3 linked regions of the Homo sapiens genome follow. The protein of the gene in region 3 interacts with the protein of the main gene of each other region in a pairwise test. Each region holds a gene or a part of one and is shown on either strand. Other genes may lie near its edges.

The links. The genes of interacting proteins can lie anywhere in the genome.
Region 1: the proteins of ENTREP3 (region 3) and WWOX interact in binary tests that used the Homo sapiens proteins (3 or more experiments, as listed by UniProt).
Region 2: the proteins of ENTREP3 (region 3) and UQCRH interact in a two-hybrid assay, tested with the Homo sapiens proteins (one large-scale study listed by BioGRID).

What each region holds. Positions count from the first base shown.
Region 1 is NC_000016.10:78,108,850-78,113,153, reverse strand, and holds part of WWOX (WW domain-containing oxidoreductase), read right to left. Parts: intron 3,377-4,304; coding exon 3,319-3,376; intron 1-3,318. UniProt on the Homo sapiens protein: Putative oxidoreductase. Acts as a tumor suppressor and plays a role in apoptosis. Required for normal bone development. May function synergistically with p53/TP53 to control genotoxic stress-induced cell death.
Region 2 is NC_000001.11:46,312,894-46,317,276, reverse strand, and holds the end of UQCRH (cytochrome b-c1 complex subunit 6, mitochondrial isoform 1 precursor), read right to left. Parts: intron 726-4,383; coding exon 693-725; 3' UTR 501-692; downstream 1-500. UniProt on the Homo sapiens protein: Component of the ubiquinol-cytochrome c oxidoreductase, a multisubunit transmembrane complex that is part of the mitochondrial electron transport chain which drives oxidative phosphorylation.
Region 3 is NC_000001.11:155,246,705-155,251,705, forward strand, and holds the end of ENTREP3 (protein ENTREP3), read right to left. Parts: intron 4,898-5,001; coding exon 4,798-4,897; intron 4,461-4,797; coding exon 4,391-4,460; intron 4,118-4,390; coding exon 3,572-4,117; intron 1,770-3,571; coding exon 1,701-1,769; intron 1,600-1,700; coding exon 1,346-1,599; intron 1,252-1,345; coding exon 1,078-1,251; 3' UTR 501-1,077; downstream 1-500.

The DNA of each region.
Region 1 (4,304 bases), on a different chromosome or scaffold from region 3:
ATGCTGCTGGTCCAGGAACCATGCCTGAGAACTGCTGCTCTTGGTTGATTAATACCCATTTCAGGGAGTAACTTTCCAAGCGTGAATGCAAAGGCAAAGACTGCACAGGAGAAAATTGATTTGACTACATAAAAAATTTAAGAAATTCAGTCAGGTGTGGTCGCTCATGCCTGTAATATGAATGCTTTGGGAAGTCAAGGCAGGAGGATCGCTGAAGGCCAGAAGTTCAAGACCAGCCTGGGCAACATACTGAGCCTCAGTCTCTACAAAAAAAAAGTCTTTAAAAATTAGCTGGGCATGGCAGCATGAGCCTGTAGTCCCAGCTCCTCAGAAGGCTGAGGCAGGAGGATCACTTGAGTCCAGGAGGTTGAGGCTGCAGCGAGCTGTGACTGTGTCACTGCACCTCAGCCCTGGATAAGAAGAGCAAGACCCAGTATAAAAAAAAAAAAAGAAAGAAAACTTGGAAAAAAAAAAAAAACATTTTCAACATTTTCAACATACAACCAATGCGTTGATACCCTTAATTAGTTGAGGAAAAAAAACTTTCACAAGTTAGGCAAAAAGCCTTTTAACAAATAATAGGCACTCCCACCTATCCAACTGCTAGACAGCCCCGTCTTCCTGGGGCTGCCTATGGTGGCCTGGGAGACTTCTCTCAAGCAAGCTTTGGCCTATTTGCTCTCAATATCAGTTTTGCACCAAAAGTTCACCAGGTTTGCTCAAAAAACACACATGTCATTTGAACTTGTTACTGTAACTACATTACCAGCAAGCTACTATTACACAAACTGATAACATGGGAGGTGAAAAATAGTGTCAGTGGTATCTATGAAAATGTGGTCGAATGCTTTGGAGAGCCTCAAAGACAAGCAGCTAAAAAAAAAGTTTTGGTTCAATCAACTACAGTGAAAATGCTAGAAAAATACCATAAAACTCCCAAATGATGTAGCAATCAGATTCTTTGAAAATACTGTGTTTGCTCAACCTTAAAGTTGTAGGGTCCAGCCCTACTGGGCTTAGCGGGTGTTCTCCCCGTGTGCAGAGACGAGGGATTGTAATAAATAAAGACACAAGACAAAGAGATAAGGAGAAAACAGCTGGGCCCAGGGTGGGGGCCACTACCACCAAGATGTGGAGACCGGTAGTGGCCCCGAACGGCTGGGCACGCTGATATTTATCGCATACAAGACAAGGGGGCAGGGTAAGGAGGGTGAATCTTCTAAGTGATTGACAAGGTGAAGCAAGTCACGTGATTACAGGATAGAGGGCCCTTCCCTTTTAGGTAGCCGAAGCAGAGAGAGAAGGCAGCATACGTCAGCATTTTCTTTTCTGCCCTTAAAAGAAAGATCAAAGACTTTAAAACTTTCACCATTTCTTCTACCACTATCTACTACGTACTTCAAAGAGGAACCAGGAGTACGGGAGGAGCATGAAAGCGGACAACGTACGTGACCATTGAAACACAGCACCACAGGGAGGGGTTTAGGCCTCCGGATGACTGTGGGCAGGCCTGGATAATACCCAGCCTTCCACAAGAAGCTGGTGGAGCAGAGTGTTCCCTGACTCCTCCAAGGAAAGGAGACTCCCTTTCGCGGTCTGCTAAGTAACGGGTGTCTTCCCAGACACTGGCGTTACCGCTTGACCAAGGAGCCCTCAAGCAGCCCTTATGCGGGTGTGACAGAAGGCTCACCTCTTGCCTTCTAGGTCACTTCTCACAATGTCCCTTTAGCACCTGAGCCTATACATGCCAGTTATTCCTAGGTTATGTTAGTAATGCCACAAAGAGTAATATTAAAAGCTAATGATTAATAGTGTTTATAGTAATGATTGATAATTGTCCATGATCATCTCCATATCTAACCTGTATTATGACTATTCTTATTCTAACTACTTTCTTTATTATACTGAAACAGTTTGTGCCTTCAGTCTCTTGCCTCGGCACCTAGGTACTCTTTCGCCCACATAAAATGAAAGTAGAAATTGTAGATGTTATGTTACAGGCATGCTTAGGGGAAGGAAGACCACACTGGATCCATGCAAGTGGACTCACACTCAGAGGAGGGCTGGCCCGACCCCTAAATGTTGGTGTACTTGAATCAAATACTGAAACGTTTATGTTACATTCATAACTTTAAAAAAAAAAAAAATTCCTGCTCAAATCAACTTCTATTAACCAACCAATCCTAATCCTGTCAAAGACTATTCAAGCTTCTAATTTAAATGTTGACAGTTGTGAAACATTAATTCTCCTCTTAACTACGGTGGTCAAGAGTACAGTCCCTGGAGCAGGTGCTGGGCTCAAAGCCTGGCTGTGCTACTTCTTTGCTGTGGGATCCTTAACAAGTCACTTACCCCCTCAAGTCTGTGTCACTGGCAGTAAGCTAGGGATAATAACAATACTACCTCTCAGGGCACTGTGGGGATCCAATGACCTAATGCTACAGATACAAGATGATTAGAATCAGGCCTGGCTCATGCTATATGTTGGACAGGTGGTTACTATTGCTGCGTGATACCGGAATTTATCCTAAAGACAGAATCAGAGAGGTGAAAAAGTCTTACAGATAAGGATGCTCAATACATTATTTATAATTATAGGTTCTCTATAACAGGAATTTAGCATTAATGTCCAATAGGCAATTTGATAAATTATAGTATATCTGTACAAAATAATAACTCTAGAGCTGCTAAATAGCATCTTTTTGAAAAATAGATATGGATACAAGAAAATGCTCATAATATATTACATGGAAAAAGCAGGTTACTAAACAGTCCACACAGTGCATTCCCTCTTTTTTTTTTTTTTTTTTTTTTGAGAAGGAGTCTCATTCTGTCACCCAGGCTGGAGTGCAGTGGCGCGATCTCAGCTCACTGCAACTTCCGCCTCCTGGGTTCAAGTGATTCTCCCGCCTTACCCTCCCGAGTAGCAGGGACCACAGGCACGTGCCACCACACCCAGCTCATTTTTATATTTTTAGTAGAGACGGAGTTTCACCATGTTGGCCAGAATGGTCTCGATCTCTTGACCTCAGGATCCACCCACTTCGACCTCCCAAAGTGCTGGGATTACAGGCATGAGCCACCATGCCTGGCCTCCCTACTTTTTTTTTTTAAGGATGCGTGTGCGGGGAAAATAGAAGAATAAATCTAGCGATGTTAAAAGTTCCAGCGATGTTAAAAGTAGTCACTTCTGCTAAGATTACAGATACACACTGTTATACTTTGTATTTTTCTACAGTTACTATGTATTACTTTTATAATTAAAAATTCCTATTAAAAAGCAAAACAGCTGAGAGTGGTTTCTTTGCAGACACTTACTCAACAAAAAACACTTGTCCGTTCTCATCAGTTTCTTGTTCCCATCCGTATGGCAAATCTGAAACACAAGAAAGACAGGTCTACAGGTGCCAGGGAGAAGTAAAGACCATCCCTGGGTCAGGAAGGGAAGGAGCCCTCCCAGCCCCGCCCCCAAGCCTGTCCCTCCCACCCAGCAGTTGTCACATCAACTGGCTTTCGTCACATGTTCCAACTGCGACAGCTGCAGAAGGCCCCTGATCCCACCCTGGGCTCCACATTTTTGCCTCTTGTTTTGAAGAAAACCTATTTTATTCCTGATCGCTCTATAAACCATACTGGTTGTGCCAATCCATGGGAATTCTCCCTTGAATGAGCTCAAAGAACATATGTATATGCAGGGCAGGCACCCAACGTCATTCATACGCTGACCTCATATGACATTAGAGGGCACGGCCATTTTTTTTCATGTGCACATGTTGATTCTTCAGCTGGATCCTAAACCTCTTAAGGGCAGGAACCTTCTCATATTTTTTTTTGAGATGGGGTCTCACTATGTTGCCTAGGCTCACCTCGAATTCCCAGGCACAAGTGATCCTCCCACCTCTGCCTCCCAAAGGGCTGGGATCACAAGCACAAGCCACCGTGCCTGTCCCTTTCTTATACTTCTATTCCGTGGATCATACATTATCTCAGAATCACCTAGAAGTCATGGTAATCTTTACGAAATTTCCAAATACTTATATATTTAATTCCATAGTATAGCCAAGAACAATTTTATAAACACTGCAACGATAGGAAAACATCATAAACTGTGAATCAAAGGCCTCAATTATTTTCTGGTTTTTGTTGTTGTTGTTGTCGCTATTTTTCAGACAGCATCTCACTCTGTCACCGAGGCTGGAGCGCAGTGGTGTGATCTTGGCTCACTGCAACCTCCAGCTCCTGGGTTTGAGCACTTCTCGTGCCTCAGCCTCCAAAGTAGCTGGAATTACAGGCGCATGCAACCA
Region 2 (4,383 bases), about 110 Mb from region 3:
GCCTGGAGTGCAGTGGCGCGATCTTGGCTCACTGCAACTTCTGCCTCCCGGGTTCAAGCAATTCTCCCGCCTAAGCCTCCTGAGTAGCTAGAACTACAGGTGCCCGCCACCATGCCCAGCTAATATTCTTATTTTTAGTAGAGACGGGGTTTCACCATGTTGGTCAGGCTGGTCTCGAACCCCTGACCTCGTGATCCACCCGCCTCGGCCTCCCAAAGTGCTGGGATTACAGGTGTGAGCCACCGCGCCCGGCCCAAAATATTTTTAAAATTAGCTGGGCATGGTGATGCATGCTGTAGTCCCAGCAACTTGGGGCCACGGTGAGAGGGTCAGTTGAGCCCAGGAAGTGGAGGCTGCAATGAGCTGTTTGCGCCACTGCATTCCAGCCTAGCCAACAAAGTAAGACCCTGTCCTCCTTGCCGCTCCCCACCCCCTCAAAACTAAAAGAAAATATCAAATTAAAAAAAAAAATTCTCAATTAAAAAAAAAAGACGGGCAGGTTTGCAGATCATAGAACTTTTATTTAGATGGAATCATTGCGAATTACATAGAAGCTACCAGCCTAAGCCAAACCCATGAGGTTCATGTGAACTTACAGTTACACAAATAAGAAACAAATGGTACATCCAAAACCATAAGGAAATATTCTGATGCCCAGATGATGAAGACTGGGGTGAATTAAGTCCACACATTTATTTCAAGTTGTTAAAGAGTTTGTGGGCCACCTAGATGGGGGAAAGAAAAGGAGGTAATCAATTGGCAGCTTTAATGTCATGGCTTACAAGGTCCTTCAAGACCTGAAACAGTACTGCCCCTCTTCTCACCACTCCCCTTCTCACATAGGCAAGCAGCACTTGAGTCCTAGTGAACTCCCCACTTTTTTCATCTTTTATTCTTCCTTTAGAATTTAGATCTGATAACTGTCATTTCCTGCAAGCCTTCTCTAAACAAGCCCCTATCCACACACAAATCTGTCCCTCCTATCTTTCCACAAAAACTTGTACCTCCCCATCAGTGACATTAACATTACATATTAATTCAACAGGACATCTCCTATATGCCAGGTAGTGTTCTAAGTGCTGAGTGAGTTATAACTGTAACAAAACATGCCTGCCACTTAAGAAACTTACAGGGTAATGAGTTAAAATGAACACATAAATAAGGTAACCTGTGATAATGGGAAATGCTAGGAGGAAAATAAATGGGAGGCGGGGCGGGGGGTTCAGTTAATATTACCCTGAGAAAGGTATACCTGAGAGACTTACCAAAGTTTAGCACTTGTTCTACTTCTGTTTCCTATGCTGGCTCATAAACTCAGTGAAGGAATGAACCATGTCTATCTTACTCCCAGATCCTAAACCAGTGCTTGGCTGACAAATATATGTAAATATTTTTAGAATGACCACACAGTGGGAGGGGGAAAATCAACAGTAGGGATGTTAATTCAGGGAACAGATCATGACTTGCCTATTTTGAACATTTCATACAAATCATATCATACGATATTTTTTACTTTGTGACTGGCTTTTTCCCCTTAGCATTTAGCATGTTTGCAAGGTTTATCCAGGTTGTAGCATGTTCAGTACTTATTTTGTTAAAAATTATGATAAAATACATCTAACATAAAATTTTCCACTTCAGTAATTTTTTTTTTCTATTTTAATCTTTTTTTTTTTTTTTTTTTTGAGGCAGTCTTGCTCTGTCCCCCAGGCTGGAGTGCAGTGGTACAATCTTGGCTCACTGCAACCTCCGCCTCCCGGGTTCAAGTGATTCTCCTGCCTCAGACTCCTGAGTAGCTGGGATTACAAGTGTGCGCCACCACACTCAGCTAATTTTTTTTTTTGAGACAGAGTTTCACTCTTGTTGCCCAGGCTGGAGTGCAATGGCTCACCGCAACCTCTGCCTCCCAGGTTCAAGCGATTCTCCTGCCTCAGCCTCCCTAGTAGCTGGGATTATAGGCATGTGCCACCACGCCCGGCTAATTTTGTATTTTTAGTAGAGACGGTGTTTCTCCATGTTGGTCAGGCTGGTCTCGAACTCCCGACCTCAGGTGATCCACGTGCCTCAGCCTCTGAAAGTGCTGGGATTACAGGCGTGAGCCACCGCACCTGGCCTACACTCAGCTAATTTTTTATTTTAGTAGAGACAAGGTTTCACCATGTTGTCCGAGGTGGTCTCAAACTCCTGACCTCAAGTGACATGCCTGCCTTGGCCTCCCAAAGTGTAGGAGGTGTGAACCACCGCACAAGGCCCCACTTTAATCATTTTTAACTGTACATTTCTGTGGCAGTTAAGTGCATTCCCATTGTTCTACAACCATACAGTCCCCTACAATCTCTAGAACGTCCAATCTTGGGACCTTTTTCATCTTACTAAATCAAAACTATATCCATTAAACAGTAACTCTCCATTTCCTTTCTCCCCTCAGCTCCTGGTTACTACCATTCTACTTTCTGTCTCTATGAATGTGACTGCTATTCTAGGTACCTCACCAAAGTGGAACAATACAATGTTTGTCTTCCTTGACACTTAGTTTAATGTCTCCAAGGTTCATCAATGTTGCAGCACGTGTCAGAGTTTCCCTCCTTTTTTTTTTTTTTTTTGAGACGGAGTTTTGCTCTTGTTGCCCAGGGTGGAGTGCAATGGCGCAACTTTGGCTCACCGCAGCCTCCACCTCCGGGGTTCAAGCAATTCTCCTGTCTCAGCCTCCCGAGTAGCTGGGATTACAGGCGCATATACCACCATGCGCAGCCAATTTTTGTGTTTTTAGTAGAGACGGGGTTTCATCATATTGGTCAAGCTGGTCTCGAACTCCGGACAGCAGGTGATCCACTTGCCTCGGCCTCCCAAAAAGCTGGGATTACAGGCATGAGCTGCTATGCCCAGCCCCTTCTCTTTTTTTTTTTTTTTTTGAGACGGAGTCTTGCTCTGTACCCAGGCTGAAGTGCAGTGGCGTGATCTCAGCTCACTGCAAGCTCCGCCTCCCGGGTTCATGCCAATCTCCTGCCTCAGCCTCCCAAGTAGCTGGTTCTACAAGCACCCGCCACCATGCCCGGCTAATCTTTTGTATTTTGAGACAGGGTTTTACCGTGTTAGCCAGGATAGTCTCAATCTCCTGACCTTGTGATCCGCCTGCCTTGGCCTCCCAAAGTGTTGGGATTACAGGCATGAGCCACCGTGCCCCGGCCCCCTTCTCTTTTAAGGCTGAATAATATCCCATTGTATATACAAAGCACATTTTAAAAAAATCTTTGCATCTATGGATGGAAAATTGGGTTGTTTCTACCTTTTGGCTATTGTGAATATGAATGTGGAAATATCTGTTTAAGCCTACTCTCAATACTTCTGGGTATATACCTAGAAGTGAAATTGCTAGATCATATAGTACATAATTCTATGTTTAATTTTTGAGAAAAGAACTTGTTTTTTTTTTTTTGAGACAGGGTCTCAGTCTGTCACCCAGGCTGGAGTGCAGTGGCGTGATCATGGCTCACTGAAGCCTTGACTTCCCCAGGCTCAGGTGATCCTCCCACCTCAGCCTCCCAAGTAGCTAGGACTACAGGTGTGAGCCAGCTTGCCTGGTTATCTATATCTATCTATCTATCTATCTATCTATCTATCTATCTATCTATCTGTCTATATTTTTTTGAGATGAAGTCTCGCTCTGTCGCCCAGGCTGGAGTGCAGTGGCACAATCTCAGCTCACTGCAAGCTCCGCCTCCCGGGTTCACGCCATTCTCCAGCCTCAGCCTCCCAAGTAGCTGGGACTACAGGCGCCCGCCACCACGCCCGGCTAATTTTTTTGTATTTTTAGTAGAGATGGGGTTTCACCATATTGGCCAGGCTGGTCTCGATCTCCTGACCTCATGATCCACCCGCCTCCGCCTCCCAAAGGGCTGGGATTACAGGCGTGAGCCACCGCGCCCGGCTTTTATATATATATTTTTTGTAAAGACAGGGTTTTACCATGTTGCCCAGGCTGGTCTCAAATTCCTGGGCTCAGGTGATCTGCCTGCCTTGACCTCGCAAAGTTCTGCGATTACAAGCATGAGCCACAGTGCCCAGCCTAGCTGATGGACACTTATGTTGTTTCCACTTTTTGGGTAGTATAAATAATGCTTCTATGAACATTTGTGTACAAGTTTTTATGTGAACATATGTTTTCATTTCTCTTGGGTATATATCTTCGAGTGTAATTGCTGTGTCATATATTAACTGTATATTTAGCCTTTTGAGGAACTGCCAGATGTTTTCCACAGTGGCTGTACCAATTTACACTTTTACTGACAGCGTATGAGGTTTCCAACTTTTCCACATTGTCGTCAACACTCGTTATCTTCTTTATTATAGCCATCCTAGTGGGCAGTTGGTATAAAGTGTTAT
Region 3 (5,001 bases):
AGGGGAAGGAGTCTGATGGGGGTGGGTGAGGAGAGAATGGATGTTTAACAGTGGAGGGAAGAAAAAGAAAACCTATTGCTGTGAAAAGGAGGAGCAGAGTTACAATTAGTGGTTGGAAAGAGTGTCTTGAAAGTTTCTTTTTTCTTTTTTTTTTTTTTTTGAGACATGGTCTTGCTCTGTTGCCCAGGCTGTAGTGCAGTGGCTCAATCACAGCTTACTGCAGCCTGGACTTCCCAAGCTCAAGTGATCCTCTCACCTTAGCCACCTGAGTAGTTGGGACTACAGGCGTGTCCCACCATGCCTGGCTAATTTTTTGTTTTTTGTAGAGACAGGGTCTCACTATGTTGCCCAGGCTGGTCTTGAATTCCTAGGCTCAGGCGATCCTCTTGCTTCGGCCTCCCAAAGTGCTAGGATTATAGGTGTGAGCCACCATACCCAGTCCTGAAAGAGTTTTCTTAAATATGAGAGACACTAGAACAAATTTCACTGGTGACAGAGAATGATCAAGAAAACAAGGGGAAAACTGAAATTTATTGAAGGCTTACATACTGTTAAGAGCTTTACAAACATTCTACCTTCACAGTCTTTAATGGAGCAGGCAATTGGGGTTACATAGCTTGCCCAAGGTCATGCAGCTAGAGGTGGCAGAGCTGAGAGGCCACCTAGATTTTTTGGACTCTTCGTGCCTGCCTTACCACCCCATTGCATAGGCACACGTCACCCTGTACTTAAACACCTGGGCCATGCCTTTGCCCTGACCATAGTGCCCTTGCAAATCAGAAAGAGCCACTCTCATTCTGAGGGGGACAAGAATTTGTTTTCCTCCTCCAGTGCTATAAGAAGGGGCATCTCCCCCACAGTCTAAATACCCATGCAGCACAGGACAGAAGCTCTCCCAGTCCAGAGCAGCAGAGGCAAGCAGCAAGAGACCCCAGAGGTAGGAGGGAAAGGGACACTTTGGGGGGTATACAGCAGGTTTCTTTTTGTGCCAGCCAGTGCAAGAGGATGCTGGGGGCTGCTGGTCCCAACCAGCTGGTGCCTGTGGCTGGATGTGTTCAGTGTGACAAGAAGCCTAGGTCAGAGCCCAGTCTCCCGGCTGCCCCCGTTGAGGCTGAGGCTGTGGGGGCGGGTACCACGCTCCAGCCTGCGGCCAGACAGGAGACGCCGCAGGGAAGAGCTAGAGCTCAGATCTCCGCAGCTGCGAAGGTGGAGGCTCTCTCGGCCAGGCCGGCCCCACAGGCTCCGGGGCACCTGGACAGGGACACAAGAAAGGGCATCATCAATAAGGCTCAATCTGAAGCTCCACGCTTTCCCAAACATCTTTCCTGGCTCCCCGAATTCCTACCTGCTTATGTCCATGAGCTCCAGTCCCACTGGGGTCTGGGGCTTTCCTGGATATCTGGAGGAAACGAGTGACCAGGCCCCGACCTGGCCAGCTGCCCTTTAGGTCCCCCAGGGAGTGGGCAGGTGCAGGGCCCGAGGGCAGGGGAACTTTTTGGAAGGTGGGCACAGGGCGCCGTTTCTCGGCTGACCGGGCACGTAGCAACTTGGGGGAAGGGCAGCGGGCTAGGCGGAAGAGGCAGGCTTCAGAGCAGAGCCCTGCAGAGAGACAGAGATAAGAGAATGGTATTGTAGGGTGGAGAGGGGGCTGGGCAGCCATGCCCAATCCCCATCCCTGGGGCGCAAACCACATGCCTGACCTGTATCTGCAGAGGAAACAGAAGCAGCTTCTTCCTCAAGCACTTTGGTATAAAGGTCCCTGAAGTCAGCTGGGGAGAAGAGAGAAAGGGAGACAGGGAGTGAGTGGAAGTGTTCTGTGGACACGCCCACCCTCCTGTGGGAACTCAAGCCCAGAGGAGCTTTCACAGCTCCCACGCTCCATCCCCAATCAAAGGGCCAGCATCTCTGTCCATATTAGCCAGCAACTAGATGGTACAATCCACCACAACAAGGACTGCAGTGGTGTTGTTCAGCACCTGGCGCACAGTGCTGAGCGTTCCCCAGTACTATCTCCTTTCTTATTTTTTTGAGATGGAGTCTCACTGTGTTGCCCAGGCCGGAGTGCAGTGGTACGATCTCAGCTCACTGCAACCTCCGCCTCCCAGGTTCAAGCGATTCTCCTGCCTCAGCCTCCCTAGTAGCTGGGATTACAGGCGTCCACCACCAGGCCCAGCTAATTTTTCAATTTTTAGTAGAGATGGGGGTTTCACCATGTTGGCTAGGCTGGTCTTGAACTCCTGACCTCAGGTGATCCACCTGCCTTGGCCTCCCAAAGTGCTGGGATTATAGGTGTGAACAGCCTTGCCCGGCCACTGTCTCCTTTCTCAGCATCTTCGAGTACAATGCCTATGGCTGAAGTACTGTTATTATACATGTTTTTTGTTTGTTTGTTTGTGTTTTTGAGATGGAGTGTGTCTCTGTCACCCAGGCTGGAGTGCAGTGGCATGATCTTGGCTCACGGCAACCCCTGCTTTCCAGGTTCAAGCGATTCTCCTGCCTTAGCCTCTCTGTTAGTAGCTGGAATTACAGGCGCGCTCCACCACACCTGGCTAATTTTTGTATTTTTAGTAGAGATAGGGTTTCACCATGTTAGCCAGGCTGGTCTCGAACTCCCGACCTCAGGTGATCCACCCACCTCAGCTTCCCACAGTGCTGGGATTACAGGTGCAAGCCACCGTGCCCGGCCTGAAGTACTATTATTATACATGTTTAACAAGTGACAGCTGAAGCTTGGGGAGGACAGATAAGTGGACCAAGCTGAGAGCTGTGGAACTGGTTTCAAAAAATAAATCCTTTTGGGAGGCCGAGGCGGGTGGATCACTTGAGGTCAGGAGTTCAAGACCAGCCTGGCCAAAAGGGTGAAACCCTGTCTCTACTAAAAAATACAAAAATTGCCCGGGCACGGTGACTCATGCCTGTAATCCCAGCACTTTGGGAGGCCGAGGCGGGCAGATCACGAGGTCAGGAGATTGAGACCATCCTGGATAACACGGTGAAACCCCATCTCTACTAAAAATACAAAAAAATAGCCGGGCGTGGTGGCAGGCATCTGTAGTCCCAGCTACTCACTACTCGGGAGGCTGAGGAAGGAGAATGGCGTGAACCCGGGAGGCGGAGCTTGCAGTGAGCCCAGATCGCGCGGCTGCACTCCAGCCTGGGTGACAGAGCGAGACACCGTCTCAAAAAAAAAAAAAAAAAAAAATATTAGCCGGTCATGGTGGCGCACACCTGTAGTCCCAGCTACTCGGCAGGCTGAAGCAGGAGAGAGTCACTTGAACCCGGGAAACGGGTTGCAGTGAGCCAAGATCATGCCACTGCACTCCAGCCTGGGCGACAGAGCCAGAGACTCCGTCTCAAAAAAAAAAAAAAATTCTCCTTTTTTAGCTGCTAAGCTATGGATGTTCTGTCCCTAGGAGGTGAGTACCTGAGAAGTGTCTACCAGAGGAGTGAACTCACCCTTTCTTCCTCCTCAGGGACCTCAACTGTGCCCCAATCCTGGTGGGCATCACTGGCCACCTAACTCCCAGTGCCTACCCTCTCCTGAGCCTGGGCAGTCGGGGAGGGGGCTCACCAGTGTCACTGGAGGTCGTGATGCCTGGGTCGCTGTGGGACCGTGGCAGCAGCAGCGGTGGTGGGGATGCCGGATGAGGAGGCCGGTGCCCCGGTGGGGTGAGGGAACCTGAGCTATCGCTGAAGCGACGAGTCGGGGCTCGGGTGGGCGGGGCTGCGGCTGGGCGGCCCCCTCCCCGGGGGACCCGCCGCCTCAGCTCGGGGAAGCAGGGTCCCACCCAGGGCGGCCAGCCCTCCAACCGGTGGCAGCTGCGGGCAGCTGTGGGGGCACCCAGTGGGGGTGGAGCTTCAGGGGCAGAGCAGGAATAGGAGCGGGCAGCCCGTGGGGGGCGCCGTGGCAGGGGGCTTTCCTCGAAGGGGCCCCGCAGGCCACAGTCCAGGCTGAGGCAGTAGCCGGCACGGCTGCGCTGGATGGAGCGAAAGAGAACGTAGTCCACGGAGCGCACGGAGCCCTGCAGCTCCAGCAGGCACGAGTCCTCCGACGGGCTAGAGCCCCCAGGGAGGTCACCAATGGCTGACAGCACCAGAGACCCGCTGTCCATGGACACTGTGGGCGGCAGGGGGCGCTGTGTAGCACCAGCCTGGCCTGGCCTAGCCCTGCCCAGGCAGTTCCTCTTCTCCCAAGCCCAGCCTCTAGGGGCCACTGTGCCTCCAGCTTTATCTCAGAGGAGAAAAATAAGTCCAGGGTTCCAAGTTGCCACAGCCCTCCTATGTCCCCAAACCACCAACTCCGCCTTGTTTTCCCCTTCTATTGTCTCTACCCACCCCAGCTATCCCTGGCAGCCCCGCCCTTGTCCACCCCTCATTACGCCCTGCTCACCGTCTACAATGGAGGCCACTCGTTCACAGATGCACGAGCCATCGTGAAGCTGAGGGTCAAAGAGAGTGGCCTGCAGAAGACACAGGGTCAAGGGTTCAGCCCTACACACTGAACACCCCCATGTGCTAGACAGAGCTCTGGAGACTTAGATTCCAGACCAGCCTTGTCCCTTTGTACAAGTCACTTAATTGTGCAGCCTCAGCTTCCACGTCTGTATGGCAGAAATGATAGCTTCCAACCCACTCACCTCACCAGGCTCTAGGGAAGATCAAAGGCAACAGTGGGCATGCTGGTGCTGTAAAGACCTTGACCACTGTTACTATCTTTATCCAGAGGCTACAGCCTGTTCAGCTTTCCAGGCTACAACCCGGCTCCCCAGCCCGCCCCAAGCCGTGCTGTGCTCTCACCTGGCTGTCTCCTCGTAGTCCCATGACTGCCTCATAAGAAGGGGGGCAATCGGTAGGGTACAAGGGCACTGGGCTGTCCATGGAGCCATTGTACGTGATGCTGGCAGATGAGGAAGAGGGTCAATGTAGGAGAAATAATTCCCCCTCCACAAAGATCCCTCTCTCCAGCAATCCAGGCCCAGCCCCAGTCCCCTTCCTTAGCTC